Homo sapiens: one gene and its partner. The protein of the gene in region 2 interacts with the protein of the main gene of each other region in a biochemical or structural test. Each region holds a gene or a part of one and is shown on either strand. Other genes may lie near its edges.

The links. The genes of interacting proteins can lie anywhere in the genome.
Region 1: the proteins of CYTIP (region 2) and LDB3 interact in a test that uses a peptide from one of them, tested with the Homo sapiens proteins (one large-scale study listed by IntAct).

What each region holds. Positions count from the first base shown.
Region 1 is NC_000010.11:86,674,904-86,678,556, reverse strand, and holds part of LDB3 (LIM domain-binding protein 3), read right to left. Parts: intron 1-3,653. UniProt on the Homo sapiens protein: May function as an adapter in striated muscle to couple protein kinase C-mediated signaling via its LIM domains to the cytoskeleton.
Region 2 is NC_000002.12:157,433,994-157,437,646, reverse strand, and holds part of CYTIP (cytohesin-interacting protein), read left to right. Parts: intron 1-2,899; coding exon 2,900-2,949; intron 2,950-3,222; coding exon 3,223-3,277; intron 3,278-3,653. UniProt on the Homo sapiens protein: By its binding to cytohesin-1 (CYTH1), it modifies activation of ARFs by CYTH1 and its precise function may be to sequester CYTH1 in the cytoplasm.

The sequences.
Region 1 (3,653 bases), on a different chromosome or scaffold from region 2:
ATCAGCCTGGCCAATATGGTGAAACCCTGTCTCTACTAAAAATACAAAAATTAGCCATGCCTGGTGGTGGGCGCCTGTAGTCCCAGCTACTTGGGAGGCTGAGGCAGGAGAATTGCTTGAACCCAGGAGGCAGAGGTTGCCGTGAGCTGAGATTGCACCACTGCACTCCAGCCTGGGTGACAGAGGGAGACTCGGTCTTAAAAAAAAAAAAAAAAAGGGTGGCCAGGTGTGGTGGCTCATGCCTGTAATCCCAGCACTTTGGGAGGCTGAGGCAGGCAGATCACCTGAGGTCAGCCTGGCCAACATGGTGAAACCCCGTCTGTACCAAAATTACAAAAAAAATTAGCTGGACATGGTGGCATGTGCCTGTAGTCTCAGCTACTCGGGAGGCTGAAGCAGGAGAATCGCTTGAACTCTTGATTGAACCCAGGAGGTGGAGGTTGTAGTGAGCTAAGATTATGCCACTGCACTCCAGCCTGGGTGAGAGCGAGACTCTGTCTAAAAACAAACAAACAAACAAAAAACTGCAGGCTATTTGTAACCTTGATTAGCCTCTTATAACCCCTGCACCCTGCAAAGCTATGGAGCACTTTTCAGACTCCAGGAGAAAAGGGAGATGCAGCAGCTAAGACACAGCAGCATCCCAGAGACACTGCCAGGCTGAAGGGCAGGATAAATGCACCCACTCAAAAGCATCTTAGTGCCAGGTGCTTTGTGCTACCTGGCAGATGTGGAGAGAGTGAGGTAGCCGACAACCCTGCCTGGATGAGCAAACTCAGCTGGGAAATGGGGCAGGGCTTAGGGTTCTGTAGTTGATGTCATACCTCCAGAAGGCAGGGTGCAGGTGCGGGGGCCAGTTCCCAAACCCTGAGCCCCGATAATACCACAGAATGTTACAGTCTGGAGGCCCCATCTTCAGTGTAACCACACAGAATGCCACTGCAACTCCATCCCGGGAATTCCCCATGGAATCTCAGGAAGGCCACACCTCCTGGGACATTACTTGGGATGTCATCGTGGCTCAGACTGCACTCTTGGGGACATCATGCACGATGCCAAATTCTGCACCCCCGGCCTCCAGTAATAGCACACTGAATGCTTTGGTGGCCCTGCCCACAGTAATATCACATGAGATGCAAAATTTCAGAGGTTCTAATAATGTCACCTAAAAAGGCTTGATGGCTGGCCCCTAGTGACATTAGCAGCCCCACCCCTAAAGATACCTCATGGAATGCCAGAGACTCTGGCTGTACCCTCTGTGACATCACATGGAATGGGCTGGCCCCTGCTAATATCACATAGAATGGCTTTATGACCTGACTCCCACCATACCATGTTGGAGGTCCCCAACCCCCATGACATCATGAGGAGTGCCATGCAGGCCTGGCCTTCAGGGACATCACAGGAAAGAGGAGGCTCCGGACCCCACCCCCTACAAGCTGTGGCTGGAAGTGTTCCTTGGCTTTGCCTCCCAAACATGCCCACCAGCCAGTCCTCTGGGCTTCTCTGGGCACATCCCAGTCACCTTCCTGGCTATAACCCAAGGACCAAGCCAGCTCCTAGTGTTGGCAGAAGCTAGATTCAGGCCAAGGCCCGAGAACCATCCTAGAAGGAGCCCAGAGAGGCTCTGGGGACAGTCCCTTGCCCCAGGTGCCAAGCCTGGGTGGGCCTCTGGCCAGGCTCTGGGCTTACAGACATGGGTGGAAGCTCCTGCCAGTCCCCTCACAGGGAAGCCCCTTCCAAACCAGGATGCCCTGCAGTCACCAGTCACCAGTGTCCAGCCCATTCCCAGATGGGCTCTGCAGATGCAGCCCAGGAACTGAGTTGTTTCTGCACGACCACATTACGGGTCACGGAAACACTGCCCTACACCACGTGGGTGATGACGGCAAGACCAGGACAGCCCTCTCCAATTGCTGTGAACCTGCCATTTCAGCCCTAGGGGCTGTGGTGCCCTCTTTTTTTTTTTTCTTTCTCTTTTTTTTTTTTTTTGAGACAGGGTCTTGCTCTGATGCCCAGGCTGGAGTGCAATGGCATCATCTCGGCTCACTGCAACCTCCGCCTCCTGGGTTCAAGCGATTCTTCTGCCTCAGTCTCCCCACAGTAGCTGAGACCACAAGCGCATGCCACCATGCCCGGCTAATTTTTGTATTTTTAGTAGAAAGGGGGTTTTACCATGTTGGCCAGGCTGGTCTTCAACTCCTGACCTCAAGTGATTGGCCTGCCTCAGCCTCCCAAAGTGCTGGGATTACAGACATGAGCCACCACACCCAGCCTGTGGTGCCCTCTTAAAATACTGGCCACCTTGTGCCCACAGCGCCCCTTCCCCTGCCCTGGAATCTGCAGAGACAGGAAAGGACAATATAGAAACAGACGTCTGGACTGCCAGGAAGCCACAGCATCTGCTTTGCAAAGTCCAGCTTGCCCTCCAGGCCCCGCAGGGGCATCTTAGAGCTACTTGAGATTTCTTAAAATACACATAGCCCTTACCCCCAGACTCATTGCCATAGCCTCTATTAATGACAGGAGTGTATTGCTGCCTTGAGTGTAGAGGTGAACAAAGTGTAAAAACCAACATCAGTGAAGGAAAGCAAAAGAGTTTTCTAGACTGAGAGGGGACTCCTGGGGGCAAGTTGAGCTGCCCAGCCAGGCCTGTCCTGCAGAAAATCAACTTTCCCTACTCCTCTATGTGATCCCCAACATTTTATTATAGACATTTTTGCAGATTTCTAGGCAGGAAAAGTAGAAAACATTCTAAAGTGTATACCTGAACACCCGCCACCATGGCTGTACCATAACATTTCACTCGCTTTGCTTTATCACACTCCATCCCTCCACATCCATCAATCCATCTCATTTGCCGGGCATTTCAAAGAAAGTTGCAGGTACCAGCATACTTCTTTCCAGGGCGAATTTTGCAATGTCTGTTCTGTCCTAGTGAACTGCCCATGGGGCTCCCCCACAGCAGGACACCCCCACAGCAAGGCTCTCTCACGGCAGGGCACCCCCAAATGCCCATCTACAGAGAAGGGGTCGTCCCCCTGCAGGGCTGGGTCATTGCAGACCCCACGCAGAAAGGCTGTGGCCTCGGTCACAGAGGAGATGCTGACAGGAAAGATGGGAGTTGTGTCCAGAAGATCATGATGACAGCATGAGCAAGGGCAACAGAATGATATCCAAGAGAGGCTGGGGCCAGATCAGAGGGGCCCTCTGCAGGGCTATCTGACTGTCCTCCCTCTGGAGCTGCCTCAGAGACATCTTTCTCCCACAGGCATGGGTCAGCGGGCACCAGCCCTCCCCACCAGGTCTCCTCACTTCCCCTCACCTAGACCTGCCTGGCTCTCCCTCATCCTCAGGTATGGGCCGGGGGGATGCTTGCTCCCAAGGGAGAGCTCAGCCTCCTGGGGTCTGGTCAGTAGCCAAGCCTCTGACCAGAGGGAAGTGGCTGAGCTGGATCCCCTGCCCAGTGCCTCTCCCCTGCAGCTGTGTCTGCTTGTCAGGGCTCAGCTGGCCTGGCCTTTGGCTGCCCTGAGTAGGGTCCAACATCCCTCAGGGTGGGGGCTGGGGGTGCTGATATCCTCCTCTAGGGAGGTGCTTCAGGCAGGATGGAGGCAGGGACCCTATGGATGATCAGGAGCCATCGGATGCCTTCA
Region 2 (3,653 bases):
CTCACTGCAACCTCCGCCGCCCGGGTTGAAGCGATTCTTCCAACTCAGCTTCCCTAGTATCTGGGATTACAGGCACCTGCCATCATGCCTGGCTAATTTTTGTATTTTTGTAGAGACGGGGTTTTACCATGTTGGCCAGGCTGATCTTGAACTCCTGAGCTCAGTTGATCCACCCTCCTTGGCCTCCCAAAGTGCTGGGATTACAGGTGTGAGCCACCATGCCCAGTCTTGTATAGCTTCCTTTGAGGAACGTCTGTTCAGATCATTTGCCCATTTTTAAATTTTTTTTTTTCTGTTGAGGTATTTTAGTTCATTATATATTCTGGATATATAAATGAGTAGTTTGCAAATATTTCCTTCCATTCCACAGGTAGTCTTTTCACTCTGTTAATTGTTTGCTGTGCAGAATCTTTTTAGTTTAATATAACCCCATTAGTTTATTTTTGCTTTTGTTGCCTGTTTTTTGAAGGTCTTATTCATAAAATTTTTTCCCAATCCAATATGCTAAAGCCTTTCCCCTATGTTTTATTCCAGTAGTTTTATTGTCTCAGGTTTTACATGAAGGTTTTGATCCATTTACTTATTTTCAGTTGATTTCTGTATAGAGTGAGAGGTATGGTCTAGTTTCTTTCTTCTGCATATGGATATACAGTTGTCTGTTTTCTTTCATTTTTAAATCTTGCTACATATTTAAGATTTTTAAATTTTACTTTATGTATTTTAGTGATTATCCTTGAGTTTTTCCTATGATATTGAATTTAATAAAGGACAATGTTGAAGACTATCTTTACATATTTCTCCTGAACGTGAATATTTAATGTGGCTCTTCAACCATCTCAGTTGCTTCCATTTTCGTTTAGTAGTTTATTTATTTTTATCTATTTCTCCATTTTTAAGTTTCCATTCTATTCCAGGCCCTGTGTTGGGCATTGGGGCAGAAAGTAAAACAAATAACATTCCCCAAGAGGTCCAAATCACACAGATGATTATGTACAGATGTGAAGTATTTGATCCAGTATGCATTTCATATAAATATATACATATATGTATACATATATATATAGCTCTCTCTATATGGATATATGAATAATATGATGAATACTGATAGCAAGAGTAATACCTTAAAAATATAAGCCCTTATTTATAGAGGTATAAGAAACTTTTATAAAAAGAATAAAAAAGCCCTAGTTATCATTACGTAATTTGGCTTAAGGGCGGAAAACAAGCAGCTGAAGATAATAAAAATAGATTAAGAAAATATGAGTACAATATAAGGGAGAGACTGAGAATGCTTGGAAATATCAAGTTTGTGGCTCTCTTCTGCAAGGAAGCCCACTAACATAGATGAATAGTCCCTATCCTTGGTAACGGTACATACGAGGTACAAAATCAGGTTACAACAAACCATACCAATCCTTGTAGGCATTCCACAGTTAGTGCTTATAAATTGAAAAGAGATACTTTTTAGCAAGACTAGAGAATCTTTTTGGGTCTGAGCAATTTATTTCAGTCTCCATTGCGATATAAGTGAGTTGAAGCCCAGAACTAACAAAAGAGGAAAATATAATTAATTTACAGCAAATTGGTAAGAAGAGACCACCTCTCCATTACGTTAAGTTTATGGACTGGTGGCTGAATTCTTAACACTGGTCCATTCCAGGAAATTTGTGAAAATGCTGGCATTTGGTACCTGGTAATTCAAAATTCCTACAGTGATGTAGGCTTCACTCCTAATGAATGTCTTAATAAGCATTTCATTTGTGTAACTTGTCACATAAGCATTAATATCTCCTACATATTTTCCCCCTTCTAGTTTTCATCCTTTACTTATTTTATTTTGCTTTGTCTGGACTGACTATGCATTGATCTCTTGATATTTTATGTGTTCATTTATATATGACAACCATTTCAGGTTGACAATTAAAAACCATGGGTTAGCTAGTAGCTTATGTTTTGGGCCCTTGAAGCAACATTTGAGAATAGGGCTAATAAACATTTCCTGAACAAAGAAACAAACCGACCAAAAAAACACAAAAACCTGCTGCAATTTTCCTAAAAAATAAGTTGTCACCTTTTGTTGATGCTGCTTCTGTTTACAGTGGTAGAATGTGTCCTGAAAGCTTATGTTTATATGATCTTTTCCAAAAGTGCAGAGGAATGAAGGTGATATTATTTATACCATTGATACTATTCTGAGGTTTCTTTCCTTTCTTGGCTGGAAATTTCACGTTAGTCTTCCAAAACTATTACAAAAATAAATCATAAGCAGAAATGAGGTTTTGAGTTCCTGGTTTTACCTGAATTGTGTGTGTGAGTTGGTTGTTTAGAGATTATTTTATCCTACTAAAAACAGTAACGTATTGAATTATTATAGTAAACACTGTCATTTCATCATCATCTCCAAAAACTATAAAGTATTTGGGTTTCATATGCCATTCTAAGTATGCTATTTTTCTTTGGATTTCAGTGTGATTACAAATTGCTATGGTTAATCTTTCAGAGGCTGTTTTAAATACAGACCAGAGAGGAAGTTCTCTTTGGAAGCTTTGGAGTTTTGCCACATTATTTTAACTCTTTTGCCACATTGTATTACTATCTAAACCTCTTTCAATCTTTTAACTGGAATGCCTAGAATCCTGTCTCCCTACTCTCCTCTGCTATCACTAGAGAATGTAGAGAATGGAAATGGCTGCCTTTATGCAACAATTTCCCAGGAGCTGGGCCAAAGAAGGTGGTAAAGAACAGGTTGTGTGTGTGTGTGTGTGTGTGTGTGTGTGTGTGTGTGTGTGTGTGTGTGAGAGAGAGAGAGAGAGAGAGAGAGAGAGAGAGAGAGATTTAGAACATTTTACAGTGTATCTTGAAGACCCTGGGATAACTATATGTCTTTTGTGTTTTTCAGCTTGCTTTGACCAGATCAAGTTCTTTAAGTGACTTTTCCTGGTCTCAAAGGTAAAGAGATTGAATTATTTTTTGTCTCTCCCAAAATATTTAGGAACATAGCTCTCCAGACTGTTTTTTCCTCTCTCTTCCTCTCTCTCTCTCTCTCTCTCTACGCACACACACAGACGCACACACACAGACACACACACAGAATCTTACATACTACAATTTACATAAATGTCAGTTATTTTTAATTGTGACAGTTATTTTTAATGATAGATCTGTGCCAAATGTGATACTTTAATTTTCATGCAGTTTCTTTTTTAAACATTTTTATTACAGAAAGCTTGTTACTGTGGAGAAGCAGGATAATGAAACATTTGGATTTGAAATTCAGGTGGGCAATTTTCACATTTTCTAGACTTCCAAGGAAGAAAGTGGCACCGGTAGTGTCATGTTATGTGCAAAGAAAAAATGAAGTTAGGATTAGAGAATGATGGAGCCTATGACTTTTATTCAGTGTGTGGCTGTTTGGGGGTAGTTTTTCAGTGTGTTGAGTACTATTAAGGAAAGAAAACATTGAAGATGATAACAAAACCTCTGCGATATGCTCAGCAGTTTGTGCTTAGTTGCTTCAGTCTTCCCTTAAGTCCCAGACTGATCAGCTAGGTTGGTATCAGCTAGGTCTTAGATAAGAGAGTGAAATACATTTTACAGATGTGTACTTGATATATTTGCATGTGTTTTGTATAATCATATTGTTATACTGTGTA